Regions from separate parts of the Homo sapiens genome. Here region 1 is linked to region 2. Evidence: fine-mapped expression QTL. A gene starts in region 2. The other region holds a variant in brackets. All regions are shown on one strand. Distances are from middle to middle.

Region 1 (14,608 bases), 150 kb after region 2:
GTTCTGGCCAGAGTCCATGCTTGGAGACAGGATCATCTGCCTTCAGCCCTCACAGTGCTTTAAATTAAAGCAAGTTTGCCCATAGGACAAAAGAGCATTTGATTCCCTTTTTTCTGTCACATATCCCTTGAGGCTGGACTTCAGGAATCCTGGAAAATTAATATGAGTGCAGCATGTGAGGGGTCAGAGACAGGCCAGCAGGGCGTCTGCATTCCTCCCTGCCACAGGTCTCTCCCCAGAGGCTGGTTTAGTGTAGGGTATTGCCAGGAAACGGACTGAGGCTGCTTTGCTAAGAGCTCCTGAAAATGCCCTGGGCCTGTCCTGGCGTTTCTGAAGAGCCCTCATACAGGGACAGCCACCATCTGGGTCAAGGAAGTCTGGGTTCCCTGCTGGTGGGCTCCATCCTGCGATGGAGTGAACCAGGCGAGAAAGGATGACGATGTTCTTCATGTTGCACCTGGACATGCCCCAGGAACAGAGACTTGCCCAGGTGGCAACACTGGCACAGATGTTGACGGCTGCCCAACTGGTGCCACACTGAGCAGGGAGCCTTGTGCTGCACAGGGCTGGGCCCTCTCTCCAGTTTCCTTCCTGCAGGCATCCAAATACCCTGGAAGGGATTTAACCCCTGAATTCCAGAGGGAAGAAAGAAGAACAGTGAAGAAGTAGAACTGGTTTCTGTATGGGGAGAGGAAAGTCTTAGGGACAGCTGCAGGCGGGGTCTCAGGCTGCTCCTTGGCACCAGCTACACAGTAGTGAGCTTTCCCAGCTTTACCGATGAGGAAGAAGTTCAAATAGATAGACTTCAGCATTTTAATTATTTTCCTATAAATGTATTTATGTGTAGTATGCTAGCACCAGCCAGTAAGCTGTGCCACACATATGAATGGGAAAGCGAGGCAGTTGTGCTCGTGTGAGTTTCTGCAGGCTTGTGGGTAATTACCTTGTGTGCACGCCTGCACGTGCAGAATAGTCACTTTCTGCTGGTCAGTTTCTTTATCCACCCATGGTGCCCCAGCCCCAGGCAGGTGTGGAGACCAGCATTTCAGAGGACGCGCTGTCCACAGCCTCCCGGGTCTGAGTGGATCATTGGGCAGGGGTGGAGACAGTGCGCTGCCCTCTGAGCTGGAAGCCTGTGCTTCAGGGAGTCATAATGGGCCTGTGCTAAGTGGGTGATGCAGTGGACATCCCAGGGCGACTAGAGGTGGCAGTATCGCGAATTTGCAGGTTTATTGAACAAGAGGTAACATCGGAGAGGATCTTGCCTTCGGATTCAGCAAGTATGAAGGCAGAAGAGCATGGAGAGCAAGGCCCCACAGCCTGCTTAGTGAGTTGGAAGGCCCAGCAAGAACCTGTTTCTGCAGCAGCCACCAGCTCCCATCACCCCTTGACCCTCCAGCTCATGCTGGAGAAGAGGGAATTTTGGCTGTTTAAAGAACACAGTTGTGAATCTCAGAATGTGCCTGAAAGGAATACTGACAGATAAGGCCGGAAACAAAACTGATGGCTTGAAAAACATTTTTATGGAATGTATTTACTATCATTTTGTTTTACTATAGAGGTAGATGGGACTCTTAACTTTTGGGTACATGGAAACATGCTGAAAACTGAACACAATCCTGATCATCACTCCTGCCTGGCTGTCTCCTGGGAGGCTGCCGGGTGCCACGGAGCTGGGACACAGCAGAGCCCGCTAGGTGTTGCAGGGCCCTGGAGGCCAAGGCCACCCTGTGTGGGGTCCCTGTTGGCAGCCAGGTCCCTACACAAACAAGTAATCCTGTTTGGCCTCCTAGGTTTTGCATATGACCTGCAGCCTAATTTGGGGTGTAGGGGAAGCTCTGCTGGCCCCTGCTCCTTTGTATGTTGGGTGACTTTAATGGCTGGCCACATACCCCTTTCTCCCAGCTACTCATTCACTGACTTGGGTAAGTTCTAAGACAGTTCGCACTTAGAAAAGAATGTGACACATCAACATTAACTTTTCCTGAAAAGAAGAGTTTGCCTAACATGGTCCTAAAGAAGCTTGGAATTTATAAGACTTTCCTTTATAAGATATAGTGGGGGTTTTTTTGGGTGGAGGGGGGTTGTTTTTTGTTTTTTGTTTTCAAGACAGAGTCTCGCTCTGTTGTCCAGGCTGGAGTGTAGTGGCATGATCTCGGCTCACTGCAACCTCTGCCTCCCAGGTTCATGCCATTCTCCTGCCTCAGCCTCCCGAGTAGCTGGGACTACAGGTGTCTGCCGCCACGCCTGGCTAATTTTTTTGTATTTTTAGTAGAGACGGGGTTTCACCATGTTGGTCAGGATGGTCTCGATTTCCTGACCTCGTGATCCGCCTGTCTCGGCCTCCCAAAGTGCTGGGATTACAGGCGTGAGCCACCACGCCTGGCCTATAAGATACGGTAAAAAAAAAAAACTGTGACCCCTTTGTCACTAAGGGAGAAAGAAATTAAGTATTGTCAAAGTTCTATAAAGAATGGAAATGTATGATATTATACTTCAAAGGAATTTGATGTTGAAATTTTAAAGAAAATTTGTCATGTTGATGAGAAGCTTCACTTTCCTGGGAACTTCATTCGTTTTAGGGCATGAGATAAAAGTCCTGGCTAGGGGAGCCATAGGTCTGTTGTACAAGGAATTTGCTTTCTAAACAAGTTGTAACTTGCCCTAAGGTCCCTGTTGGAGCACTAAGAGGTGACACAGGCCAGAGACAACGTTTCGTTTCCCCTTCCCTGCAAGCTGGGATCAGCCCTGTGTTTTCTCCTTTCAGCTGAAGTGAGCGAAGGTTCTCAGTGCTGGCAAAAGAGCCCACTTTCTAAAAGGACTTGGGAAGAAAGCTGCTGGGAACTTGCTTATTAAAAAGTTCCTTAGAATTAAGGTATCTACCCACTGTTTTCGCACCTTTCACCTTCCTGGGCTTTCCTGCCCTCCAGCATTCTTCTCTAGAGAGGTTCCTAGCCCGCTCAGCGCGAGCGTCTCCAGTAGGTAATAGCAGCTGAACGTGGGTTTTCCACGGACTTCAGGCTTGGAGGTGCCATATACAAGCACACTTCTTCCTTCCCCTGGCTTCTCCATGCCACCACCCACTTTAAAGATGTAAACTCAGTAGATTTTTCATCCAGTGAACGGTCATCTTCACATCGAAAGGTGAAGGCCACCACTGTTCTCAATGCCAAGCAACAGAACGTTCTGAGATGGCCGTTCTTCCTTGCACAGCAGCTACGGCAGGTTGTTCTGCAGCCACCCCTTAGAGGGGGCTCTTCGTTTTACCTTTGTACAGTTCTTGTGTTTACACATTTGGGCCAAACAGCTTTCAGCAAGGGCATGTGTCCACAGCTGATGGGCAGTTAAGAACCAGCCTGAGCTGAAGGCTAGTAATACCGTGCTGTAGGCTCTTTAAAAGGAAAGCCTGGCATAAACCCAGCATGGAAAGGAACATTATCAGTTATCTCAAATTTTGTCTGCCAGGGACAAGACCCTGTTCATTCTTTTGCCCTTTTCAGAACTGTGAGCTTCAAGTATTCTTGCTTCTCTGTAAAGGGAAGACATCTCCCTTCTCTGAAATCCTTCAACAAAAGAAAAGGCTCTTGGCAGGGTAGGGGAGTCAGTAGCTCAACACTAGATCATCCCTAGAGATGGGGCAAGTTTCTGTCTGAACACGTCTTGGGTCCGAGTCCTTAGGTGTTCGGATGCAGTACTTTGTGAATACTTAAGCTACTGCATGCTTGGTGTAGCTTGCAATTTCTCTGTATTTAAAAGCAGCTGTGTTTATTTTCTTCAAAATAACCTGTATATTATTTAGAGCAAGCAATGTAAATATTACTGAGAAGTTACTGCAGGGATTTTTGTGACAGAGTTTGTATGGGTTTTTAAAAAAATCTTAGACACCCCTTTTTAAGATGGGGAGAACAGGGTTGACTGCACCGTTGAAGCCCGCCCAGCATTATAAGGAAATGTTTTTAATGACTGCTGCATCTTTGTAAAACGTTTGGTCATCTAACAGATGGTTTTAAAGTGTACAATATCCAAAATAACGATAGCCCTGTATCCATACATTGTTTCATTGAAAGAATTCTCTATTGCCTCTTCTTGGTAGAGCCAGAGTCCTTAAGGAAAATCAGGAAAATTAAGAAAATGATGGTGCCATCTTGACCAGACTTCTGCACAGTAATTTAACGCTATCCTAGGGAGACTTGGTTGAAGGCACAGTTCTGGGATCAGGGTCTAAATGTGCAGTTTCTGAGAACCTTCAAGACCACTCACTGGGCAGGGCTCTGTGGAGCACTGGAGCTGTTTGGATTCCCCAGCCCTTTGGTCATATCCTGGAATTCCGTGGAGGCTGCAGAACTTAGATGCAGCTGTTTTTTACAGCACCTATTTTTGTCAGATTGGTAAGGAAACACTGAGTCACAGAATACTTAAGAATTGGAGACTCCAGTAATGTAGGATGGCCTGAGAGGACGTCCAAGTCCCAAGGGGTGGACACGGCATGTTCCTCGGGCACAGCCTCAGTGGGGGCCTTCCCCAGGCGCAGCTCGGCCACCTGAGGAAAGGGTGTTTCGGAGGCGCAGCCACACACACAGCGCTGGCAGCCTCACGGTCACGCCCATCACTCCCTGCCCCCCACTGCCCTTGAGAAGTTAGTGGTGTCACATCCTTAGTTTTATAGACAGCTAGGAATAGATTGTGAAGAACACTCAGTTCACTACTGTGTTACATTTATATCACAAGCTTCAATTAAAATGGATTTTAAAGGATTTTAGGATTTACCTTTAGTATTAACAACGTATCTACTGACATACTGTTAGGATTCAAAACCAGTTAAGTATAAGAATTACTTCATGTGGTTTTCCTAGGGTACAATTTATAAAAGGTAGAAAGCATCCAAGTGGCTCCTCAACAATTACAATTCTTAATGATTTTTCTCACAGCTGTGCCCTTCTGTCAGGGTCAGTGTCAAAATTCGTTATCAAAGGCAAAACCTACTGTGCCAAGCTGGGGCGCTATATGTGAACGGAGTGGAAATGCTTCAGTCACCTCTGCCGCAGCTTGTGATTCCAGCAGTTCTCACAAACGTTCTGTCACATGATGAAAAGAAGCAGCTTGTATAATTCCAACTGGTGTTTCATTTCTGTTCTAATGCTAAGTGGTAACGCTTAACAAACAGACTAAAAGCTGTGTGCAGAAGAAAGGGCTGAATGAGTACCGCCTCCCTAGGTTCCAGCACAGCGCTCGGGTCTAAGAAGTAGAGCCCCGGGGTAGGGTGGGCCATCCACTGTCAGGCCAGTGTCTCAAGAAAGCCTGACCAGCTGAGCTGCTGCTTTTTTTTTGGGGGGGGGGGGGGGAGGGGCGTCTTGAGGCTTTTTTTTTTTTTACAAAGTTAGTTTGTGATCAACGATTCACTACAATTGAAGTGTTACTTTGTCAGAATATTTATTCCTTTGTGTGACATGCTAGATTCCCTGGATGTAGCTGATCATTTTTATTTTGTAAATATTACCTAACTTTACATAAACTATATCATAATAAACTATTTTTGCATCACCCTTTGCATGCTGTGTAATGAGATTTTGTTTAGTTGAGAGACATCTGCAAAATAAGCACGCAGGTCAAAAGGCAAACTGAACAGTAGCCTCCAGCTCTAGAGTGGGTTGATTTCAGTTTCATTACCTCCTTTTTTTTGAGACAGTCTCACTCTGTTGCCCAGGCTGGAGTGCAGTGGCAGGATCTCGGCTCACTGCAACCTCTGCCCCCGGGGTTCAAGTGATTCTCCTGCCTCAGCCTCCCAAGTAGCTGGGACTACAGGGGCACGCCACCACGCCCAACTAATTTTTTGTATTTTTAATAGAGACGGGGTTTCACCGTGTTAGCCAGGATGCTCTCCATCTCATGATCCGCCCGCCTTGGCTTCTTAAAGTGCTGGGATTACAGGTGTGAGCCACCGTGCCCGGCCTTTATTTTATTTTATTTATTTTTTTTGGAGCAGGGTCTCACTCTGTCACCCAGGTTAGAGTGCAATGGCATGATCTTGGTTCACTGCAGCCTCTGCCTCCTAGGCTCAAGAGATTCTCCCACCTCAGCCTCCCAACTAGCTGGGACTACAGGCATGCACCACCACACCCAATTAATTTTGCATTTTTTGTAGAGACGGGGTTTCCCTGTGTGGCCAAGGCTGGTGTCGAACTCCTGGACTCAAGCAGTCCTCCCACCTTTGCCTCCCAAATTGCTGAGATTACAGGCATGAACACAGTGCCAGGGCCTGATTACCTCCTTTTGAATTACAGTGGATTTTTTTTTTTTTTCTTTTTTGAGACAGAGTCTTGCTCTGTTGCCCGGGCTGGAGTGCAGTAGCGCGATCTCAGCTCACTACAACCTCCGTCTCCCAAGTTCAAGCGATTCTCGCGCCTCAGCCTCCCAAGTAGCTGGGATTACAGGCATGCACCACCACACCTGGCTTGTGTGTGTGTGTGTGTGTGTGTGTGTTTAGTAGAGATGGGGTTTCACCATGTTGCCCAGGCTGGTCTCGAACTCCTGACCTCAGGTGATCACCTGCCTTGGCCTCCCAAAGTGCTGGGATTACAGGTGTGAACCACTGTGCCTGGCCAGTTTTCAGCATTTTAGAATTACGGTAGTTCACATAAAAATTTGGATTTTACCTGTTCACACACAAGCCATTGTAAGAAATACTTTACATGCAGAATCTAATTAAGGTACACTGCCCCAGTTAAAGAAGCCTTCAGGGGCTAAAGGGACAACGAGAAGTGCTAATGGTGGTGATGCTTTTATTAATCAAGGTCTTGTAATTCCCCATCCCTGTCCCTCTTATTAATAGATTTATTTACAATAAAATTTTACCTTTTGCTTAAAAAAGAAACTGCATTTTACATCATGACCCAATATACACACACGCCAACAACCTGAAATTTAACAAAATAATGCACCCTTACTATATATACTTTGATGATTTCGTTCACTTTTAAAAATTCTGATTGTGACCCACTAAATAAATTTTAAATAACAAACAACTGGGATTTTTAGGTTGGGCGCAGTGGCTCATGCCTGTAATCCCAGCACTTTGGGAGGCTGAGGCAGGTGGATCACTTCAAGACAGGAGTTCAAGACCAGCCTGGCCAACATGGGGAAACCCTGTCTCTACTAAAAATACAAAAATTAGCCAGGCATGGTGGTGTGCGCCTACCTGTAATCCCAGCTACTCAGGAGGCTGAGGCACAAGAATTGCTTGAACCCAGGAGGTGGGGGTTACTGTGAGCCTAGATCGTGCCACTGCACTGCCAACCTGGGCAACAGAGCAAGACCCTGTCTCAAAAAAGAAAAACTGGGTTTTTTAAACAATATATTCACAACCTTTAGAATGAAATGGGTGAAATTTGTGGGAATCTAAACTTTTATCCAGATAACATTGAAAAAAAGTTGATTCTACCAATAAATCAATTTAAGAGGCCAGGTATGGTGGCTTACGCCTGTAATCCCACCACTTTGGGAGGCCGAGGCAGGTGGATCACTTGAGGTCAGGAGTTCAAGACCAGCCTGACCAACATGGTGAAACCCCATCTCTACTAAAAATACAAAAATTAGCTGGGCATGGCGGTACACACTTGTAATCCCAGCTACTGGGGAGGCTGAGGTGAGAGAATCACTCGAGCATGGGGGGCAGAGGTTGCAGTGACTGAGATCGCGCCACTGCATTCTAGCCTGGACTACAGAGTGAGACTCTGTCTCAAAAAAACAAAACAAAAAGTCAAGAAATGTATAAAACATAGCCAAAAAAAGTTAAGTACAGGCATAAAAAGATACACATTTTCAGTCTGCTATTCCAGTTGTCTAATTTTTTTTTTTTTTTTTTTTTTTTTGAGATGGAGTCTCACTGTGTCACCCAGGCAGGAGTGCAGTGGCGGGATCTCAGCTCACTGCAGCCTCCACCACCACCCACCCCCCGGGTTCAAGTGATTCTCCCATCTCAGCCTCCTGAGTAGCTGGGGCTGCAGGAGCACACTGCCATACCTGGCTAATTTTTTTGTATTTTTAGTAGAGATGGGGTTTCACCATGTTGGTCAAGCTGGTCTCAAACTCCTGATCTCAAGTGATCCACCTGCCTCACCCTCCCAAAGTGCTGAGATTACATGCATGCACCACCGCTCCTGGCCTCCTATGGTTTTAACATACGCTATTTTTGTAAAGCTATGTAAATGCAATTTTTAAAATCAGTTGGCATTTGAAAATCCAACACTGTTTCATAACAGCCTGGCGACAGAGCGAGAATCTGTCTCAAAAAAAAGAAAAAAAAAAAAAGGCCGGGCGCAGTGGCTCACACCTGTAATCTTAGCACTTTGGGAGGCTGAGGCAGGCAGATCACAAGGTCAGGAGTTCGAGACCAGCCTGGCCAATATGGGGAAACCCTGTCTCTACTAAAAATACAAAAA[C/T]TAGCCAGGCGTGGTGGCATATGCCTGTAGTCCCAGCTACTTGGGAGGCTGAGGCACAAGAATCGCTTGATCCCAGTAGGCAGAGGTTCCAGTGAACCAAGATTGCATCAGTGCACTCCAGCCTGGGCTATAGAGCTAGACTCTGTCTCAAAAAAACAAACAAACAGTGTGGTCTTGGCATAAAGAGAGATATTGATAAATCAGTGAAACAGAATTGCGAGTTCAGAAAAAGCGTTCTTACATTTACAGTCAATTGATTTTCAACAATAATGCCCAGACCATTCAGTGAGGAAACAATAACCTTTTCAACAAATGGTACTGGGACAACTAGACATCCACATGCAAAAGAAAATGAAGTTGGGCCTCCTACCTTGCACCATACACAAAAATTAACTCAAAACGGATCACAGACCTAAGTATGAGTGATAGGAATATAATATACAAGAATGGCCGGGTGCAGTGGCTCACGCCTGTAATCCCAACATTTTGGGAAGCCGAGGCAGGCAGATTACTTGAGGTCAGGAGTTCGAAACCAAGCCTAGCAAAACCCCATCCGTACTAAAAATACAAACATTAGCTGGGCGTGATGGTGGGCGCCTCTAGTCCCAGCAACTTGGGAGGCTGAGGCAGGAGAATCGCTTGAACCTGGAAGGCGGAGGTTGCAGTGAGTTGAGATTGCACCACTGCACTCCAGCCTGGGCAATAGAGTGAGACTGTCTCAAAAAGAAAAAAATTATATATATGACAGAAAAAAACATAGGAGCAAATCTTTGTGACCTTGGGTTGGGCAATGGTTTCTTAGCTATGACACCAAAGCACAAGCAACAACTGTAAAAATATTAATAGATTATACCAAAATCAAAAGCTTACATGCTGCAAACAATTCCATCAACACCTATTACCCAAAGAAGGGAAACATTTGCAAATGACTTTTTCTTTTCTTTGAGATAGAGTCTCGCTCTGTTGCCCAGGCGGGAGTGCAGCCTCAATTTCCCAGGCTCAAGCGATCCTCCCACCTCAGCCTCCTGAGTAGCTCAGACTACAGGAGTGTGCCACTATGCCCAGCTAATCTTATTTTTATTTTTTTTATTTTTTATTTTTGGTAGAGACAAGATCTTGCTATGTTGTCCAAGCTAGTCTCGAACTCCTGAGGTCAAGCATTCCTCCTGCCTCGACCTCCTAAAGTGTTGGGATTACAGGCGTTGGCCACTGTCCCCAGCTTGCAAATTATGTATCTGTTAAGGGATTCTTATATCCAGAACATATACAAAGAACTCTTAAAACTCAACAATAAAAAGACAACCCAAAAAAATGGGCAAAGGATTTGAATAGACATTTCTTCAAAGATGACATACAAATGGCCAATAAGCTCATGAAAAGACATTCATCATCTTAAGTCATTAGAAATGCAAGTCAAAACCACAATGAGACACCATACCCACTAGAAGGGCTATGATCAGAAAGTTAGATCATGCCATATGTTGGCAAGGATGTGGAGGAAAAGGAACCCTCATTCACTGCTGGTGGGAATATAAAATGATACTTCCATTTTGGAAAAAGTCTAGCAGTTTCTCAAATGGTTAAATAGTGTTATATGACCCAATAATTTCACTCCTAGGTGTATACTAAAGAAATGAAAACATGTCTGTGCAAACACTTGTACACAAATGTTTATAGCAGCATTATTCATAACAGCCAAAAGATAGAAATAACCCAAATTCCCACCAACGAATGAATGGGCAAACAAAATTTGTTATCCATACAATGGAATGTTATTCAGCCAAACTAAGAAATGAGGTGCTGAAACATGCTGCAGCACAGATTCCCTTGAAGCATGACGCGAGGTGAAGATGGCAGAGACAAAAGGCTGCAGAGAGGATTCCATTTCTATGAAATGCCCAGAGTAGGCAAATCTGTGAGACAAAGTAGACTAGTGATTGCCAGGAGCTGGAGGGTAGTACGGAGTGGGGAGTGACTACTACTGGAACAGTGTTTCTTTTTGGGGTGATGGTTACACAACTTTGTTAATATACTAAAACCCACTACTGAATCTCATGCTTTTAATGTGCAGATTTTATGGTATGTGAATCTTGATCAAGTGTGTTTTTAAAAACTGGGTTGGATCCTGGCAGCTCCCATCGGTGCTGATCGCAGCCAGCAGCCCGAGGCCTTTAGTGACGCCTTTCTTCAGCATCTGCAGACAGCGAAAAGCAGAGCTGCAGGTTGAAGGCTCAGAGTAATGGATGGAGCCCTAAAATGAGTAAGAATAGGTGCAGGCAGGGCCTGAGTGGTCACTAGAAAAGAGAAAGCAGAGTTGGTGCCATCACATACATCCACCTCATGCCTTATTCTGAAATTTGAGTGTGAGAATACATGTCGACACATAAGCCAGTCATGATTTTAAAGGCGTCGGCTGTGGTCTTGAAAAGAGTCATGTGGAAACCCATCATCACCTTAAGATTTTTTTTTTTTTTTTTTTTTTTTTTTGAGACGAAGTCTCGCTCTGTCGCCCAGGCTGGAGTGTAGTGGCACCATCTCGGCTCACTGCAAGCTCCGCCTCCCGGGTTCATGCCATTCTTCTGCCTCAGCCTCCCGAGTAGCTGGGACTACAGGCACCCGCCACCATGCCCGGCTAATTTTTTGTATTTTTAGTAGAGACGGGGTTTCACCATGTTAGCCAGGATGGTCTCGATCTCCTGACCTCGTGATCTGCCCGCCTTGGCCTCCCAAAGTGCTGGGATTACAGGCATGAGCCACCGTGCCCAGCCACCTTAAGATTTTGAGTGTAAGGATCTTCATGATGAAATTTCTGAAAATGGTCCATTCTCAGCTTCAATTTCTGAGACTGGAGAAGGATCCTCTAGTAGCCACACTGTAGCAGCTGCCCTGAGTCAGCACCTCCACTTGGACCCAAAGTAGGATGTCTCTCAGGCATGTCACTCCCAGTGACACCAGATGGGATCCACCCAGGGCTGCCTCTGCTGCTCATTGTTAATGCCTCTAAAGTCATCTCCATGGTTCTTTGGGCTTCATCTTTAAAGGATTCAAGTGACTGAGACTATCCCAGAAAACTATGCAGCTAGTGAAACTAGAGTACAACTAAGAACATTTTCAGACCTCCAGTGTGGATGACCTGGGCATAATCTCACAAACTGATGGGACTGCAAGGATTGTAAACTGAAATTGACATGAATATACTCTGTTGGATCAGACTAAAAAAAAAAAATTGGGCCCGGCACAGTGGCTCACACTGGTAATCCCAGCACTTTGGGAGGCCGAGGTGGGCAGATTATGACATTAGGAGTTCGAGACCAGCCTGGCCAACATAGTGAAAACCCGTCTCTACTAAAAATACAAAAATTAGCCGGGCGTAGTTGTGGGCGCCTGTAATCCCAGCTACTCAGGAGGCTGAGGCAGGATAATCACTTGAACCCGAGAGGCGGAGGTTGCCGTGAGCTGAGATCGCGCCATTGCACTCCAGCCTGGGCGACAGAGAGAGACTCTGTCTCAAAAAAAAAAAAAAAAATTGTGGGTTGCTTTAAAAACCTATAGAACTGGCTGAGCGTGGTGGCTCATGCCTGTAATCCCAGCACTTTGGGAGGCCGAGGCAGGTGGATCACCTGAGGTCGGGAGTTCAAGACAAGCCTGGCCAACGTGGCAAAACCCCGTCTCTACCAAGAAAAAAAAAAAAAAAATTAGCTGGACTTGGTGGTGGCACACGCCTGTAATCCCAGCTACTCAGGAGGCTGAGGCAGGAGAATCGCTTGAACCCGGGAGGCGGAGGTTGCAGTGAGCCAAGATTGCACCATTACACTCCAGCCTGGGTGACAAGAGCGAAAACTCCGTCTCAAAAGAAAACAAAAACCCTATAGAACCAACATAGTGCTTTAAAATATGGCATCATTGCATTGGTTCATTCCAACAACCTAGGAATATTCAACAGTGTGGGCAGACTGTTAAGGGCATATGGTACTATCAGAATTTTTTGTTTGTTTTGAGACAGAGTCAAGCTCTGTCACCCAGGCTGGAGTGCAGTGGTGTGAGCTTGGCTCACTGCAGCCCCCACCTCCCGGGTTCAAGCAATTCTCCTTTTTCAGCCTCCCGAGTAGCTGGGATTACAGGTACACACCACCACACCCAGCTAATTTTTGTATTTTTAGTAGAGACGGAGTTTTGCCATGTTGCCCAGACCGATCTTTTTTCTTTTTTTGAGACGGAGTCTCGCTCTGTGTCTCCCAGGCGATCTCGGCTCACTGCAAGCTGGGCCTCCCGGGTTCACACCATTCTGCCTCAGCCTCCCGAGCAGCTGGGACTATAGGCGCCCGACACCACGCCCGGCTAATTTTTGTATTTTTAGTAGAGATGGGGTTTCACCGTTTTCAAGCTGTATCACTGCCCGCATAGTTAACAACATTGAATCCAAACCACTAAGCTGATGAAAGCTCATCCCAGGAGACGAGGGCAATTAGAGGGGAATCTTCCTAGAGCCTCTTTTGTGACTGCTGAGCCTACTTGGCAAATTTATTACTTCTTTTAAAGTTTCTCTCTGAGAGGAGCCAAGACAATCTTGTAGGCAAAAAGAGGCTTCAGGTGACACACACACTACACAACCCCCTCCCCAGCCCTCATCTTCAGCGAGCCCCTGCCTTCTAGCATCACTCGCCTCAGGTGTTGGAGCAGAGGCCGGCGTGCAGTTCTAGGGTCTCCTGGGCATGCCTGCCTGTTACTGGCACAGCAGTCTTTACGTGTGGGCCAAGGATCTTCTATACTTTTAATAACGTCTTCCAAGATCGGGTGTCTGATGAGCAGGCACACCCAGCACAGTTTCAACAAGCAATTTATCCCCCAGTGTGCAGGCTCCTTCCTTACAGGCTGAGTACTATGGGGTTACAATCTTCCCAGACATTGCTTATTGGTTGTTAGGCGGGGGCTTTAGGTATTTTTTTTTTAGGGTTGTCTTGCTGCATTTTGTTACAGCCCACAGTGCATTGCAATCTTAGTCTGCTTAGGGGCTCTTCAAGTATTTGACTTATGACCTAAGTAGCTAGGCCAGCTGGTAGGAAGAGACAAAGCGAGCTATTTTGCAGGCCAGTAAACTTTCATTTTAAACTTTTTTGGTTCGGGTGAGGGCAACCAAGGAAGGGGGAAGGGGGCAGGCGGGGAAGCCGATAAGGCATCGGCTAGCCTGAGGGGCCTAGTACAACCCGTTTCTTCCGTAGTTTGCTGACCGAAGCCGATTCAAGGCACTTTGTCTTAAAAATGGACCACCGTATACCTTATTTCCTTCACCCAAATAACAGCTTAAAGTTTTACTCCTCTTTGAGTCTCCTGTTCTTTGACCAACAGTTTCTAAATAGCTGTATACTGCCCCCCCCCGCAAAATTATATTTAACAAAGAGGAGCCCCTACTTGAATGATTTAGCAGCAAGCTAAGGCAAAGACACCCAGCGCTCACATTCCAGAATAAGAACATGTTTATTCAGATGTGCCAGAAGTCCAGGGTCACGCGGCTTCGCATTTAGGAGATGCTTTACAAGCTCTCCCATTTTCTTTTCAGAACATACACTGGGGGAATTCACAAACTAAAACAATTTCTGGTGACTTCCAATCTATATATTATACTTTACAGCTTCAATTGAATTTTTTTAAAAGTTAACTTCCAAGCTGGCTTGCCTAACACTGTGAGTCAAAAGTAACCCTAAAAAGGAAAAACACACAGCACTGAAGGGTCTCTGGGTGGTAATGCCAGCGTGGGCTGGGGAGGTGAGACTAAGCACATGGCTAGCAGACCTCAGGATGGGCCCTGGGGCTCATCATACAGAAATATGACAAGATGATGAAGTCACAACTTCAGATGTCATCGGAGCTATCTGTATATGACACACACATTATAAACAAATAACCTGGAACATTTCACAGTGTACGACACCTGTTCTACCTGGGAATGCAAACCCTGAGCTGCAAATAAGAACACAGACGTGGGAGACACCACGGCCTGAAGCTGCTCTCCTCTTCCCCGCTCTCCTCTCCTCCGGTCCCGTGATGGGTTACGCTGAGCCAGCAATGTGCACGCACTAACTCCACAGGTGTTAAAGGTAAGGTCACTTCTAAACACACAACAAAATTACCTTAACATTAGGACATTAAAAGTTAAAAGCCCGGCCGGGCAT
Region 2 (17,024 bases):
CTTTCCATAGTCCATTAGAGGATGAGGATGAAGTTCTGCCTCTTGGAAGCGGTGGTTATCTATGTGTATTATTAGAATCTGATTTTACATGACAGAACAATGTTTCATTTTATGGATCTGCCCTCATTTATTTAGCCAGTACCCTAATGTCACACACTTCCATGACTTTCAGCTTTTCTTTTACAAACAAAGCTGCAAACCACAGCAGGAGCTCAACTTCAAATTCAAAAAAAATTGTGGTTTGTTTTTTTTTCTTTTGAGATAGGGTCTTGCTCTGTCATCCAGGCTGGAGTTTTAGTGATGTGATCACAGCTCACTATAGCCTTGAAATCCTAGGTTCAAGCAACCCTCCTGTCTTGGCCTCCCAAGTAGTTAGAATTATGGGCATGAGCCACCATGCCTGGCTAATTTTTAAAAAATGTTTTTGTAGAGATGGGGTATTGCTATGTTGCTCAGGCTGGTCTGGAACTCCTGGCCTCAAGCAATCCTCCTGCCTCAGTCTCCCAAAGTACTAGTATTACAGATGTAAGCCACCACATCTGGCCTCAACAAATAGTTTTCAAACAACTTCTCTGTAACAGACACTGCACACTCTAGTGAACAATGTTTGTATACCTCTTCAATGTTCTTTTTTCTTCTTAGAATAAATTCACAGGTTGGGATTACTAGGGCAAAAGGTAAGCACATTGTTAAGGCTCTTGATAAGTATCACTAAACAAAGCTCCAGGAAACTTGTACTAATCTGCTCTTTGGATTGACAATTTTATCTTTTTCAGCCTTTTTTTTCTTATTACAAAAATAATTTCTGTTTTTAGGAGATAACTGGAAATCACTCACTGGGCATTTAATGATATTAAAGAATTATTGTTTTTTTAGGTATGATAATGGTATTGTGGCTACTTTTTGAAAATAGTTCTTATCTTTTACAGACACACACAGTAGATGAGGGAGTATGGTTGAAACAAGACTTGTCCTGAGTTGATATGGAAGCTGGGTAATGGATACATCCACCTTCATTATATGATTTTCTCTATATTAGTAAGAAAACAAAAGCTTTTATTAAAAATTTTAAACATGATATAAATCTCTAGCTTAAGTGTGAGTCCCCATTCTTTCACCTCCCAGGGTTAACTGCAATGAACGGTTAGGTGTATGTGCCCCTGACCTTCTCCATGTAAACACTAACTGTGAATATTGCTAACACACACACTCTTAAAACAAGGATGAGCTACTACAATGCACACCATTTCTCCAACAGCTTTTCACTTCACCATATTTTGAGATGGATGGCCACGTCAACACTATCTCAGTCTTTAACAACTAGCCCCATGGTACTCCCCTGTATCAAAGAGCCATAATTTATTCATCCGATCCTCTAATGATAGACAATTGGAGTATCTCCAATTTTTGCTATTAAGAACAATGATGGAATGAACATCCTTGTACATAATATCTGTGTACCTGTGTGAGCAATTTTACAACCTATCTTTCTAGAAGTGGAATCACTATGTCAAAGTGGTCACAGACTTAAAATTTAAATAACATGTCCAACTTGCCCTTCTGGTGGACTTTCTGTGTCAAGTGCACTACATTCTCTCCTAGTGCACATCTGGAGACTATTGTCATTTGGTGCCTGCTGTAGAAAAGCCTCATGGCGTCACAGCTGGAAAGGGCCTCCGAGATCTTGTGGTCTTGCTTCCAGGGAAGGGTGGGGCCCAGCCCCCGATGCTGTCAGGGCCACGTGCAGCTCCCTGGGCTGGAGGTTGTGTAGAGCAGTGCTCACGAAGATACTGCCCATGTCTGAATCCCAGGCTTACCATTTACTGTTGTATGACCTTGAATACTTGCCTTGTCCGTGCCTCAGTTTTCTCATCTGTAAGCTGAGGATAATACTAATTCTGGGGTGGCAACTGGAAAGGGGTTAGGAGATTTTTCTTGAAGCTACATTAACAAAGTATATATTTATTTGGGGTGGCTTTCAGGGGATTGATGGATGATGGGGGGTGGGCACTAAGGACTCCCATCAGACACCACCAGCGCTGCCAGAGCTAATTTCAAATGATGACAGCTGGACTTAGTGAGATTCGACGTGACGAATGCCCAGCACACGGCACACAGCCTGGCACACTGTCAGTGCTCGATGGTTGTGAATTCTTGAATGCTGACAGGTGCTGTCTGGGACAGGGAGACCAACATTTCAGAGAGACTGTCCAGGAGAGGGAGGCCCGAGCAACAGGAAAAGAGGGGACCCAAGAAACAGCCTAATCCAGCCCGCCACTTACTACTTAAATAAAGTTTGATTGTAACACAGCTGCGCCCCTTCATTATGTAATGTCTATGGATGCTTGCACTTGACAATATCAAAGCTGAGTAGTTTCGACAGAGACCATATGGCCTGACAAGGCTAAAATATTTAGTATCTGGCCCTTTACAGAAAAAATCTGCCAACCCCTGGCATAGGGGTTATAGGCATACTAATACATGCTGATAGTTCTTGAGCTCACACCGTGTTTCAGGGACTGTTCTAAGCACGTCACATATATAAATTTCTTTAGTCCTCACAATACTCGTATGACATGGCTACTATTTATGGTAGCTAGTCTCAATGGTGGCCCCAGTGAACCACGTCTCCTGGGGCTGACGCCTCTGTGGGCCCCCCACCTCGAGTCTGGGACATCCTGTGCCGTGTGCTGACTAATGGCATGCGGTCGAGTGCCAGGCCTGGCATTAAGGAGGATGGGTACTTCTGCTTCTTTGCTCTGGGGAACACTGAGGTGCTGCACGCAGAGCAGAAGGGGAAGCCATGGGGAAAGGAGAGGCTCTGAGGCTGCAAGGAAAGGACGAAGGTCCAGCCAGCCCTGTCTCAGTCCAGCCTCCAGTGACCTCACCCAGCTACCATGCAGCCACACTTACAGCAAGCAAGACCAGCAGGACTGCCGGGCAGAGCCCAGTCCACTCTCAGAACCAGAGAGACAAGAAAATAGTGCTCAAGCCACTCTGCTTTGTGGGGTGGGGTGGTTCTGCAGCAATAGCTGGCTGAGACACACCACACCAGAGCCTTCGCCTTTCCACCCTCCTTTATCCAGTGGTTCCAACTCCTGTGTGGTTATGAGAATCCTCCAAGTAGCCTTTACAGACACCAATTAAATCAGAATATCTGGAAATGGACCAGAATAGGAATCCTTTTTTTTTTTTTTTTCTGAGACAGAGTCTAGCTCTGTCACTCAGGCTGTAGTAGCACTGTGGCACAATCTCGGCTTACTGCAACCTCTGTCTCCCAGGTTCAAGCCACCCTAGTAGCTGGGATTACTGGCCTGCACCATGATGCCTAGCTAATTTTTGTATTTTTAGTAGAGATGAGTTTTGCCATGTTGGCCAAGCTGGTCTCGAACTCCTGGCCTCAAGTGATCCACCTGCCTCGGCCTCCCAAAGTGCTGGGATTACAGGCCTGAGCCACCGCGCCCAGCCTCCAGAGTAGGAATTTTTTTAATCCTCCAGGATTTGAGAACCACAGCTCCACCCACTATTTCCAAAACTTGCCTAGCAGAAATATTTTAAAAACAGATTCTTCGGCTGGGCACAGTGACTCATATCTGTAATCCCAGCACTTTGGAAGGCTGAAGCAGGAGGATCTCTTGAGCCCAGGAGTTCGAGACCAGCCTGGGCAACATAGTGAGACCCTGTCTCTACAGGAAAATTAGCAAGCAAGGTGGCACACTCCTGTAGTCCCAGCTACTTGGGAAGCTGAGGTAGGAGGATCACTTGGGCCTGGGAGGTCAAAGCTGCAGTGAGCCCAGATCACACCACTGCACTCCTGGGCGACAGAGTAAGACCCTGTCTCAATAGCAATGACAAAATAGATTCGTGCACTCCAACAGATACACAATTCCATGGGAGGCCCTGGAAACCTGTAGCATTCACACATTCCTCCAGATGAATTTTATTATCAATGATTAGCAGAAAAAGGGCGAGATGAGAGCCCAGCTCTCAGGTGTGGAGAACTGCTTGGCAGTTTCCCATCAGGTTAAACATTCACTTCCCAAAACTTAGCCATCCCTAGTCTTGGGTATTCCCAATAGAAATAAGTGCTTGGCCGGGCGCGGTGGCTCATGCCTGTAATCCCAGCACTTTGGGAGGCCGAGGCAGGCAGATCACGAGGTCAGGAGATCGAGACCATCCTCACACAGTGAAACCCCGTCTCTACTAAAAAAATACAAAAAAAATTAGCCGGGCGTGATGGCGAGTGCCTGTAGTCCCAGCTACTCAGAAGGCTGAGGCAGGAGAATGGCCTGAACCCAGGAGGCGGAGCTTGCAGTGAGCCAAGATCGTGCCACTGCACTCCAGCCTGGGCGAAAGAGCGAGACTCCATCTCAAACAAAAAAAAAAAAAAAAAAGAAAGAAGTGCTTATGTCCACCAAAGACAAGCACGAAGATACTCGTAGCATTATTCATAATGGCCCCAAACTGGAAACATCCTGAATGTCTATCCACGGGAACATGGACAGATAAATTGTAGTATTTCCACACAAGGGACTACCAGGCAGCAATGAAAAAGAATGAAGTACTGATATATACAGTAGCCGTGTGGATTGAATTTCACAGGCATACTGTTGAATGAGAAGAGCCAGGCATAGCTCGCAGCGGATTCCACTCATCTATGGTGATGGAGATCAAAATAGTGGTTACCTCTGGGTATCTGTGTGTAAATTCTGCTCCCTAACAGGACACAGGGAAAACTTCCCAGGATGGCAGTCAGAGCCACAAATCAAGACTTACCTGCATTTGGGGCTCACCTGAGCGGCCTTTTCTTGCTTGCTTGCTTATTTGCTTTTTTGAGATAAACAATATACATTGAGGTGTACACAATGCAGTGAAAAAAGCATACAGCCCAGTGAATCTTTACATGTTTACACTGAGTATTGAACTTCATGCAAAGTGCTGTTCTAGGCCCCTGGAAAGGGAAGCCAAGGTTATGAGACACAGACTGTGTCGGTATGGATTTCATAATCTGGTGGAGGAGATATTACAATACAAGGTGGAACGATGACTTTTCATCCATTCACCCATGGGGTGTTTTTCTTGTTTGTTTTGTTTTTTGAGACAGAGTCTCACTCTGTCGCCCAGGCTGGAGTGCAGTGGCACGATCTCGGCTCACTGCAAGCTCCGCCTCCCGGGTTCATGCCATTATCCTGCCTCAGCCTCCCTAGTAGCTGGGACTACAGGCGCCTGCCACCAAGCCTGGCTAATTTTTTGTATATTTAGTAGAGACAGGGTTTCACTGTGTTAGCCAGGATGGTCTCGAACTCCTGATCTCATGATCCGCCCGCCTCGGCCTCCCAAAGTGCTGGGACTACAGGTGTGAGCCACTGCACCCCCATGGGGTGTTTTTGAGCCCCTGCTCTATGCCAGGCACTGAACTAGACAGGGGAAATGGAGTAGCAACCAAGACCCCACTCTACCGTGAGGGTTTTGGAGAGGAGCGCAACTAATTGATTCTACCTCCTAAACATTTTCCAAATTCATTCCCTTGCCTCCCACTGACCCTATCCTAGTCAGGCTGCTACCCTCTCTCCTCTGCAGCTCTCTCAGTCCTTGCCCCTGATTCATTCTCCAGATCAGCAGCCCTTACCTAAGTGCTCAGCCGAAAAAAATTCAAAATTGATGACTGCCCCTGGCCCAGGCAGCTCCGGTGCTGGCCTGTGTGGGCTCAAATCTTCACTTGTAGGATCTATAATTGTGACCACAGGCAAGTTCCTGATATGTCCTGAGCCTCGTGTGTGTCTTCTATAAAATGGAGATGAAATAGTATTAACAACAAAAACCATACCTGTCTCCCTGAAGAGGCTAGGCTTGCACCATCCACTACTCCTCCCAGTGCCTCTCAATGCTGGTCACTCCTGCCTCTCTGAACTACCCAGTGATAGAAAGCTGCTTCTGTTCATGAACACACCCTTTGGTTTCAAGGCCTGAGACTCTATAATTGGTGCCCCAGTTTGACGTGTCTTTCCCTTCACCTTCTCTGGCTGGGTCTTACTCAGCTCCAGACTCGGCCTAGGCATTGCCTCCTCCAGGAGCCTTCCCTGAAGCTGCCTACGGGGCTGGGTGCCCCTGTGTGGGCCCCCACAACACCCCGGATTGAACTTCTCTGTCTCCTGTTTCTGTTTGTCTCCACTTGCTTGAGTGTGGGCTCCTGCCGGGCAGGCTGCCTCTGAGTTGCTGAATGAAACTCTTCTTTGCGCCCCTACTGTGGACCCCTCCAGTCCAGTGCAGGTGCTGGATGTGCCTACTGACCTGAGCAGAACATGCTGAGCACTTTAAGGGAGGTGGCCTTGAGGAATGGGCAGGACATCAAGAAAGAAAATATATATATATATATATATATATATGTATGTATATATATATTTTTAAACAAGTTGTACATGCAGACAATACTAAATTCAGCAGAAACAAAAGGGATTGCAATGAAAATTAAAAGTAGGTCACCTCTCAACCACCCAGCTCCCCTCCCCAGTGGCCACCTCTTCTATCAGTTTCTGAGTATTCTCTGCAGGGCAGAATTGTCAGTCTTCCGTCCCTTTTTTATTTTGCAAAAATTTAAAGCAACAGAAAAGTTGCAAGAATAGTACAATAAGGCCGGGCGCGGTGGCTCACGCCTGTAATCCCAGCACTTTGGGAGGCCGAGGCGGGCGGATCACGAGGTCAGGAGATCGAGACCATCCCGGCTAAAACGGTGAAACCCCGTCTCTACTAAAAATACAAAAAATTAGCCGGGCGTAGTGGCGGGCGCCTGTAGTCCCAGCTACTCGGGAGGCTGAGGCAGGAGAATGGTGTGAACCCGGGAGGCGGAGCTTGCAGTGAGCCGAGATCCCGCCACTGCACTCCAGCCTGGGCGACAGAGCGAGACTCCGTCTCAAAAAAAAAAAAAAAAAAAAAAAAAAAAAAGAATAGTACAATAAACACCTTTTGCCTAGATTCACCAATTAACATTATGCTACTTAACAAGCATTATATCATTTAATGTTCACATTAATTAATTAATGCCAATTTTGTACATGAGGTCACTGAGGCACCAGGCAGGTTAAGGGACTTGCCCGAGGCCACAGAGCTCCTGCCTGGTGGAGCTGGGCTTTCCCCCTTAGGCTGCCAAAGGACTTTGATCTGCCTTCCCACAGCTCCCTTTTGAGGAAAAGCATTTTCTTACACTAAGTTGAAATCCACCTCCCTGGGATATTTACCAGATGATCCGTGGAAAAGTACACAGCTCTGGAAGCATTTGCTACTTCTCCTCCTAAAACCTCCTCCATTCCCTGAGCGACAGCTGCTGTGGCTGCCACTACCACATGCTCCAATGTCACCTCCTCCGTGAAGGCTGGGTTAGCTCACCCCCCTGTTTAAAGACTCACCATGACTCCCAGCTGCCAGTGGGATGACATGTGCACGCCTGGGCTTGGAATACAAGGCCTGGGTGATAGAGCCCTCTTCCAATCCCTCTTGCTCCTTCTTCCCCTATCTCCACTTCCAGCCACACTCAACCCTCTCACTGTCCACTTAAACTTCCCCTCCTCCTTGAAGCCACCCGAATTTTTCTAAAGAGCGCATTTCTCCCCTCTCTGGGCTCCTGCAACCTTCTGCCTGAGCCTTTGACAGCCTTTTCCAGGTTGTCTTTTGGCCAGGAGGCTGGACAATGGAGGACGGGAGTGACAGCTCGGCCCCTTCCTAGCAGAGTGATCCTACACAAATTACTCCAGGTGTCTGACCCTTCATTTCCTCAAGCACATCATGGGGGAAAGAATGCCTAGCTCAGCACCTGGCAGAGAGTCAGCCTTCGCTCATCTCCCCTAATGGAGCTGACAGCTCTTCAAGTCCGCTGACATCTTCTCTTAGTCATCCCTTGAAATACTACCCGCTGTTACTTCTCTGCTCCTCAGTCTCCTCCTATGTAAAATGGGGATGAGAAAGGAGAGGTTGCGAACCTTTAATGAGCGAGCCCTTGGAGTATCCAGCCCTTCCCGACGCTAACTGACTCCTACGAGGGGGCCTGGTACACAGTAGGTGCTAAACTAATCCTCTCCGAGCTGGGCTTGGGGAAGATGCCTCCGTTGGGTGTACAGCGTGGGCGCGGGAAGGCGAGCCTGGGAGCGAGGGGGTTGCAGAGAGGCAGCCTGAGGTCGGCTCCGCCTTCCCCCGCATCCCCCGCCCGGGCCCTGCAGCTGTCAGCCCGGCCGGCCTCGGCGCCAGTCCACCAAACCTGAACGTCCCATGCCGGCGCCCCCACCTTCCCGGCCTGCACAACTTACCTTGCGCTCGGCGGCCCTCGGTCCCGCCCCCGACTGCCATTGGCCCAGAGGTTCCTTTGTTAGCGAGAGCGCGCCAACCCCATTGGCCGGTGGGGCTGCCGATCGCGTCGGGCGCGGCCCCGCCCCGTACGCCCCGGCACCTCCCCGCGCCCGGCCGCCCGCCCGCCCGCCCGCCCGCCCGCCCCCGTAGTGCGTGAGGCGCTCCGGTCCCATTTGCAGCGGCCGCGGGGCGCCGAGGGCAGCTGCGGCGGCGCGGACGAGCCGGGACGGCGGCGACCGGAGCCTGAGAGGCGGGCCGCAGCGGGAAGCAGCGGGCCCGAGGCCGCGTCCATGGGCCCGCGGCGGCCGGGCGGCGGCGGTGCGGGCGGGAGCTGGGCGTCGCGCGCGCTGTGAGGCCCGGGCGGCTCAGGAGCCTCGGCGCGTGCAGCGAACCGCCCGCCGGGAAGGAGGCCGGGCCGGGCCTGCGGCGGGGCCGGCGAGGGATGCGGCGCGGCCGCGCTGAGCCCCTAGCCCGCCGGGAGCGCCAGGCCGGCCAGGCCTGCGCCGCCGCCGCCGCCGCCGTCGCCGCCGCGCCGACCATGTCGGCAGCCAAGGAGAACCCGTGCAGGAAATTCCAGGCCAACATCTTCAACAAGAGCAAGTGTCAGAACTGCTTCAAGCCCCGCGAGTCGCATCTGCTCAACGACGAGGACCTGACGCAGGTGAGCGACTGGGGCCGGCCCGGACACCTCCGTTCTGGGAGCCGCGGGTCGGCGGCCGGGGCGCCGCCAAGGGCTGCAGGGAAAATAAAAATGGAGCAGGGAAATGCGCGAGTCCTGGGGCATGGGGACGGGGACGGGAAGTGCATTGACAGAGCTGGGACAAAGGGAAAATCCTCGAGTATGCCGAAAAATAACATCCTTTCCCGTTCCCATTGCCCGGCTGTGTGATTCATGCTTTTTGGGTGACTCAAAAGTGCCTGGTTTCGCTTAGTAGGAACAAAGCGCTTAGGGATTGCATGCCGCTTGACGGGACCCCCCTGAGATTCTGGCTTGGGACTGGACTTGGATTTGTCCAGCCAGAGTGGCCCAGGGGTCGGATTGTTGGGGAGGACTGTGGGCTTCCGTCTAGTGGGACGCAGCCTGCCCCGATTCTGAATCATCGTCACTGTCAAGCACTGGAGAGAGGTGAAGGGGTGTCCAAATCTGGCGAGGAGGGTCTTGTTCTTGAACTTAGTTTGGCAGGCCGTAGTTTAGCGGGGAGCTGGGACCAGTTCCCTGGTCACTGGCCGAGGGGTGAGGAGACCTGTGGGTCCTCGGGAAAGTTGATTTCTGTCTCCCAGCCTTAACTGTCAAACAGGGCTTTGAACTAGTTATGACTCCCAAACGTGCATTAGAGTCATAGCCATTAAACACAGAGTTCTGGGGCCCCCGCCCTGGAGTGACTGGGGAGATGGGGAATTTGTATTGATGAAAGGCTCCAAGAGGCTTGGCTGCAGCCCCCATGGCCCTTGGGAACCCCTGCAGTGATTGCTGTTTGAACTCCTAGTGTTCCAGGATTCCGAGCCTTGTGTGCACCTCCTTGGGATGTGCCTCGGTACCCTCCCCACGGCCATCATCTCCATCCTCTTCAGAGCTTTCTCTCAGCCTCCTGAATGAAGCCAGGGGAAGTCCCTTCACATTCCAGTCCAGTGTGACCTAGTTGTAGCCACTCCTGTCGCAGAAGAACCCCTTAGACTGAAAACGAGTGAACGGGCCTGGTTGTTTTTAATGCCACTTCAGTGCACCCAGGGTTTGACTTGTTTACATGGCCGACTGGAGTAGGGTGGTGGGGCAGGGGTTACGGCCTGGGGCACGGGGCCTTTCTCTGAGGTCAGGTTTCCAACTGCCAGGAAAAGATTCCTTTCATCTAAACCCCAAAAGCTTAACGAAACACTCAAGGCTGCAAAGTCATAGATGGTTAAGATACCAAGGGTTTTAAGGACGGTCAGCTTGGGACGGATAGAACTCATTTACCTCGGAGGGTGTTTTGGAGTGTAAAGGAGAACTTGATTCCTTCTTCTCATCTGGATGCTTTTTTGGATGAAACAGTTTATGCGATGAGGAGTTGTTAGGAGACTTTGCTTCAGGTCTTGGCTGTCACTTCCAGCTGTGTGACCTTGAACAAATCCCTTTACTTCTGTATCTTTTAATTTCCTTATCTGTAAATTGGGAATCCTGGTCCCTGGCTTACCTCCTTCACTGAGCATTTGTGAAAAGCAAGAAATGATATTTTATGAAACTTTTTTCTCTTACAATTTAACAAACCAAAAAAACCTGCCACTTTAAGAAGTTTCTGGGCAAGGGTTGTTCTGAGAGAGGTTTGTAAGTTTCCTGGTTATTCTAAGCAACTGTCAAAATTGGTAAATTTACACCTCATAGGGGCTGTTTTCGAATTCTTAAGCTTAGATAAACTAGGATGGAATCTGCATGTTTGAGTCCAATCTGCTAAGATTTTTTTTAATCTGTTGATTATTAATTGGATTCACGGGGAGAGGCAAACTTAAAATACTGTACTCTCACTGTATTCAAAGTTGAATTGTGGGTTTTGAAACAGGCCTGAGACCTTCAGGGCACAACTGGAATGGTAGTTTCTGAAATAATGAGTGGGGTTATTTGTGCTGGGAGAGGTTAGCCCAGCATTCTACCTCCTGGGATCTTTCAGGAAGAAACTGCTCTTGAAAAGAGAGGAGGGAGACTCAGGGCTGTTGCCAACAGCCTTCTCTGCTGCTCTCTGCATCCGGCCCTCCCTCTCACTCTCATCCTTATGGCTCCATTAGAAAACCTCAACCAATCGGTTCCCATCAGTCTCCCCCAAGCCCCTGCTTCCTGCTGCCCCTCCCAGCCTGGAGCTTATTTTAGACCGTCAAAGCTGGAAGATACATCAGCCACCATCGAGGCCACTCCCTCCTTAAGAGGAGAGGATACTGGGCCCAGGGAGGTGGTGGGCAGCCTTGGCCGGCTTTTGCTCTGGAGATGTCATCTTCCCAGGAGCAGACATTTCTCTGAGCCTTTTGGTTTGAGGTTTATTTCCTCAGCTGTGGGTTTTGTTTGTTTGTTTTTCCCCTAGAGAGGCACAGAAACCTCTTGCAGGGACTGTATTATGGCATCAGACCTGGAAGGGACTTGGAGATCAGCTAATGTAACCACTTCCTCTTACCGGTGAGAAGATTGAAACCCAGAGAAGGGAAGTGACTTGCCCAGTTCAGGGATGGAGCCAGGATTCTGAAGCCAATGTTAGTTCCCCTACTCCTGTTCAGGGTCTACAGTGGCCACACCATGAGCACATGATGAGGACAATAATGTCAGGGATAGTTATGTTGCAGGAGGTGCCTTGAGAATGCTGGCTTGGAGCAGTGGAGTTCTTTGCCTTTTCCTCCTCACGGAAATTTGGAGTAATCTGGGATAAGTGATAAGTGACCGTCCTTTATTACTTGTTCCAGGCCCCTGTTCACAGAGTGTCATTTATCCTCCAGTTTTCCTGTGCATTTCTCAGCGACATACGGACCCAAATATACAGTTTTTTTTTTTTTTTTGAGGCGGAGTCTCGCTCTGTTGCCCAGGCTGGTGTGCAGTGGCGCGATCTGAGCTCACTGCAAGCTACGCCTCCCAGGTTCATGCCATTCTTCTGCCTCAGCCTCCCGAGTAGCTGGGACTACAGGCACCCGCCACCATGCCTGGCTAATTTTTTGTATTTTTAGTAGAGACGAGGTTTCACTGTGTTAGCCAGGATGGTCTTGATCTCCTGACCTCGTGATCCGCCTGCCTCGGCCTCCCAAAGTGCCGGGATTACAGGCGTGAGTCACTGTGCCCAGCTCAAATATACAGTTAAACCTTTTTATCCTGAACTGTGTGCATGTATTTGCTCTGCGACATATTTTTTGTTTTCTGCTTATCAGCATATCTTTACGTTCTTTTCATGGTGTTGCATATAAAGATGCCAGAACCATTTTGCATATTAGGCCTTTAGGAGTGTACTATAATTTAACCCGTTTCCTTATTGATAGACATCAAGGTTGCTTATGGGTTTTGCTGTTACATACAGTGAATGTTTCGGCAAAGAGTCTTATAAATACTTCTGGGTGTGTGTGCGTGCATGCATGAATGCAAGTATTTCTCTGGGGGCAGATACCTATAAATAGAATGGCTGGGTTGACATCAAGCGCATAAATTTTTTTTTTCAGATACCACGAAATTGCCTTCCAAAAAAGGCTGTGTGATAACATTTCCAGGACTGGATATTATCAAATGATTTAATTCTCTAATAATTTTCCTAATTACTCATGAAGTTGAGCCTTTTTTATAGTATTTACTGAGTATTTTTGTTTCTTTTGTGGATTGCCTGTTCGTATTGCTTGCCCATTTTTCTGTAAGGTTAGTTTTTCCCCCAGTTGATTTGTAGGAGCTTTCTATAAGTGCTTTAGGTCAGGGGTCTGCAAACTTTTTTGGTAAAAGGCCAAATAGTAAATATAATTTAGTGTCTGTGGGCTATATGGTCTCTGTCACAACTGTGCAGACTTTGCCGTCTCATCACAAAGGCAGCCGTAGACAACACATTAACGAATGAGTTCGAATGAGTTACTGTGTTCCAGTAAAACTTTATTTACCGGCAGGGCGCAGTGGCTCATGCCTGTAATCCCAGCACTTAGGGAGGCTGAGGTGGGTGGATGATCTGAGGTCAGGAGTTCAAGACCAGCCTGGCCAACATGGTGAAACTCTGTCTCTACTAAAAATACAAAAACTAGCTGGGTGTGGTGGCACATGCCTGTAATCCCAGCTACTCCTTGGGAGGCTGAGGCACGAGAATTGCTTGAACCCAGGAGGCAGAGGTTGCATTGAGCCAAGATCGTGCCACAGCACTGCAGCCTGGGCAACAAAGTGAGACTCCTTCTCAAAAAAGTAATAATAATAATAAATTTAAAAAACTTTATTTACAAAAACAGGCAGCTGGCATGATGTGTGGCCTGTGAGCCATAGTTTGCTGACCCTGAACTAGATATTAATCCGATGCTTGCCACGTATTGCAGGTATTTTTTCCCAGAATGCCACTTGTCTTTTTTGTGTGGTTATTTTTCTTTTTCATAATATAAATGCAGTTGGTCTTTTTTTTTAATAGTTTGTAGTTTTAATGTCATGTTTAAGGCCTACTTTCCAAGATTTGTAAAATAATTTCTCATATTCTTTTATAGCTATTTTTATACTTAGCTTTTTAATCTATCAGACTTGTTTTTTAGGAAAATAATTCTGGTTAAAGGCAGAAGATCTACTGGAGGCTATTAAACTGGGTAAATTACAATCAAGGCATTCTCTCCAGATCAGTGCTGGTGAGGATGGAAGGAATCAGACTCTAGGGACAGGATGTTGTTGGTTGATCAGAGGTGGGTGTTGAGGAACCTGGGGTAGTTAGAAGTACCTTTAACAGAGATTGAGAAGAACAGATTTGGAGTAAACTTGGGGGATGGGGAGGGGTAAAAAATAATATGGTAAGTTTGACCCTTATGGACGTAGAGGGAGGCTGGGTTGGAATTCTTAAGTCTTGGATGTGGAGGTGGTTGCTGAAATCATGGGAGTGAGTGTGAGCACTCAGGAGGCTGCATAGAGTGAAAGGAGAGGAACCAGCCTAGGAAGCCCCCATGTAGTGGGCAGGCAAAAGGGGAGCAGGTGCAGAGGCTGGGAGGTGAATCAGAGGGGTGGGCATTAGTGGGAGAAGCAGGTCTGGAACCCAGGGTGCTCAGCTTCTACATCCGCGTGTTGATCTGGGGGTGATGTCTCTTTCTCCTGCTGACTGTGTAACTTCAGGCATTGCCTCTGTGGAAGGAGCCTGCAAGCCTGTTTCTACTTCTTTGTCTAGCCCTGTTTTTTTGTGGGACCTTGGCTGGGTCATTTTCATTGCTCAGGCCTGTTTTCCCATCTGGAAATGAGCTCGGTCTTGATCTCTCCCAGGGTTCTTAGTCTTCCTGGTGTGATTCTGCCCTTGCTGTGCCCATACCCCACTGCCAAGGCTCCAAAGCTGCGGGGGCCTCAGGTGGGAATTTCAGACATAGAGGGTGTGGGCCAGGACGAGGTCTCAGGGAAGCATTTCATCAGGTTTCCCTTTGTTCCTGTAGACATTCGTAGAAGTTCTAAGGCATAGGACTTCCTGATTTGACTTAATGTGTATCTCAGAAACAACGGGGAGATTTCGCATCCCCCCCTTGTAGAAGATCTGTAACAGGAGTTGGTGTGTTGCTTGGCAGGGAGCGTGTCAAAAATCTCAGACACACAAAATCCCATTTCAGACGGCCAAGCACCATGACAAATGCTCAGCGTTGTCATCAGCGAAACCCAAATTGAAACCACAGTGAGATATCACTTCATACCTGTCAGGATGGCTAGAATTAAAAAAATAAGAATATAACATGTTGGCGAGGATGTGAAGAAGTTATAACTCTTGCACGTTGCTGGTGGGAATGAAATGGTGTAGCTGCTGTGGAAACAGTTTGGGGGTTTCTCAAAAAGTTCAGCATAAAACCTACCACGTGAGCCAGCATTCCCACTTCTAGGTATATGCCAAGAAGAATTGAGGACAGGTGTATTCAAACAGATACTTGTATACAAATGTTCATAACAGCACTACTCACAATAGCCAAACGGCAGCAACAATCCAAGTGTCCATCCACTAATGCGTAGATAAGCAAATCATAGTGTATCCATACCATGGAATATCATTCAGTTCTAAGAAGGAGCGAAGTACTGAGACATGCCACAACATGGACGAACCTAGAAAACATTGCGCTAAGAGGCAGACATGAAAGGTCATGTGTCACATACTGTGTGATTCCATTTATGTAAAATGTCCAAAACAGGTAAATCTGTAGAAACAGAAAGCAGATCGGTTGTTGCCAGAGCCTGAGGGTTGGGTGGGCAATGTGGAATGACTGCTAATGAGACTGGGGTTCTATTTTGGGGGTGATGAAATGTTTTGGAACTAGATAAAAGTGCTGGTTGCACAGCCTTGTGAAATGTACTAAATGCCCCTGAATTGTTCACTTCCAAATGCTTCTTGACTTATGATGGGACTTATGGTGGGGGTACATCCAGGTAAAACCCATCAGACCTATCACAAAGTCAAAATTATAAGTCAGGGACTGTCTGTACAAGAATCGCTCTCTCACACACACACACCTGCCTTCTGCTCCTTGTGTCACCTGGAGTGAATATCTGATTGTTTCTAGAGTCTAGACCAAGGCTTGGCAATTTTTTTTATAAAGGACTCTTCTTTTATCCTGGGGAACTCCTTCCCCAAGCCACTCTTTCCCACCTGAATGACACAGTTGGACCAGGTCGGTGGTTTTCAAGCTTTCATCAAATCCCGGAGCCTTTTACTCAAAAGAAATCTTGTATATTTTAGGTTTTGCAGGCCAACAGGCAAAATCGAGGAGGTTGTGTAGGATATAGCCACTTAAAAATGTAAAAGCCATTCTTGGTTTTGGGGTCTTAGAAAAGCAGCTGGTGGGCCAATTTGGCACAGGGGCACAGTGTGCCACCCCTCAGACCAGCCCTGTCCTCTAGAACTGTAATGGAAGCCACATAGGAAATTTTAAATTTTCCAGCGGCTACGTTAAAAAAGTAAAAAGAGGGGCCGGGTGCAGTGGCTCACGCCTGTAATTTCAGCACTTTGGGAGGCCGAGACGGGCGGATCACGAGGTCAGGAGATCAAGACCATCCTGGCTAACACAGTGAAACCCGTCTCTACTAAAAATACAATAAATTAGTCGGGGCCGGGCACAGTGGCTCACGCCTGCAATCCCAGCACTTTGGGAGGCCGAGGCGGGTGGATCACGAGGTCAGGAGATCGAGACCACGGTGAAACCCTGTCTCTACTAAAAATACAAAAAATTAATCGGGCGTGGTGGTGGGCGCCTGTAGTCCCAGCTACTCAGGAGGCTGAGGCAGGAGAATGGTGTGAACCCGGGAGGCGGAGCTTGCAGTGAGCTGAGATTGCGCCACTGCACTCCAGCCTGGGCAATAGAGTGAGACTCCGTCTCAAAAAAAAAAAAAAAAAAAAAGAGGTGAAATTAATTTTAATTATGTTTTATTTAACCAGATATATCCAAAATACTGTCATTACACCATGCAAAAAAGTTATGACGTGCGCATTTTACGTTACAGCACATTTCAGCTCAGACGAGCCACTTTCCCACTGCTTAGTAGCCTGGTGGTGTGGCCGCTGCCCGCAGTCCTGGTGGCAGCCCTGGGGTGCCACAGGTGGTGGTGAGTTTCCTCCGTCCCTCCCTTGGGCCTTGGGTTGGAAGGTTCCTGGAGTGCTGCTTCTCTGGGACTTGTTACTCCTGTTTGTGTCCCCACTCCTCCTTGGCCCTTGGTGTCTATTGCCAACTTTTGAAGTTTCTTTCTTTGACTATCACATCTTTGATGGCTTCTTTTGGTGTGTTAGAAGTTCTCTTCTGGGCTCTGATCCCCACTCCCTGCCCAGAGGCAGAGTTTAGGGGCAGAAGGGAGGAAGGTCCTTGCCAGGGCCTCAGGCCTGTCCTGTGGGGAGCCGGTGAGGGCCGTGGTGGGCAGGCTGGCGTATCCCCCTCTAAACTGGACGTGCAATGTTCCAGTATTATGTAATTGCACCCTAGCTTTTTTCCCTGGGTTCTAGCCTGTTACCTGATCTTTTCCTCTGATTTCTCTTTCCCTTGCCACACAGAAGGACTATAGTCCAAGG

Evidence for each region. PIP is the estimated chance that this variant, and not a neighbour inherited with it, causes the effect.
Region 1: its variant is fine-mapped to the expression of MPRIP in whole blood (TOPMed, PIP above 0.99).

Annotation. Positions count from the first base shown.
Region 1 is chr17:17,187,101-17,201,708 of GRCh38, forward strand. It overlaps MPRIP (myosin phosphatase Rho interacting protein), which reads left to right. Exons shown (of 24, transcript NM_001364716.4): 24 at 1-5,543. PLD6 (phospholipase D family member 6) reads right to left here. Exons shown (of 2, transcript NM_178836.4): 2 at 13,895-14,608. Among named protein-coding and RNA genes, the nearest start is that of PLD6, 12 kb to the right of the region's middle. RefSeq lists enhancers at 4,031-4,698, 4,699-5,364 and a silencer at 5,535-5,624. The variant C/T (reference allele first, on the strand shown) is at 8,439.
Region 2 is chr17:17,033,974-17,050,997 of GRCh38, forward strand. MPRIP (myosin phosphatase Rho interacting protein) reads left to right here and starts at 8,484. Exons shown (of 24, transcript NM_001364716.4): 1 at 8,484-8,998. The coding sequence starts at 8,876. It overlaps LOC124903938 (a long non-coding RNA gene), which reads right to left and starts at 8,352. Exons shown (of 3, transcript XR_007065644.1): 1 at 8,298-8,352; 2 at 7,808-7,935; 3 at 5,370-5,784. RefSeq lists enhancers at 2,627-2,686, 9,171-10,370 and silencers at 8,049-8,508, 10,182-10,476.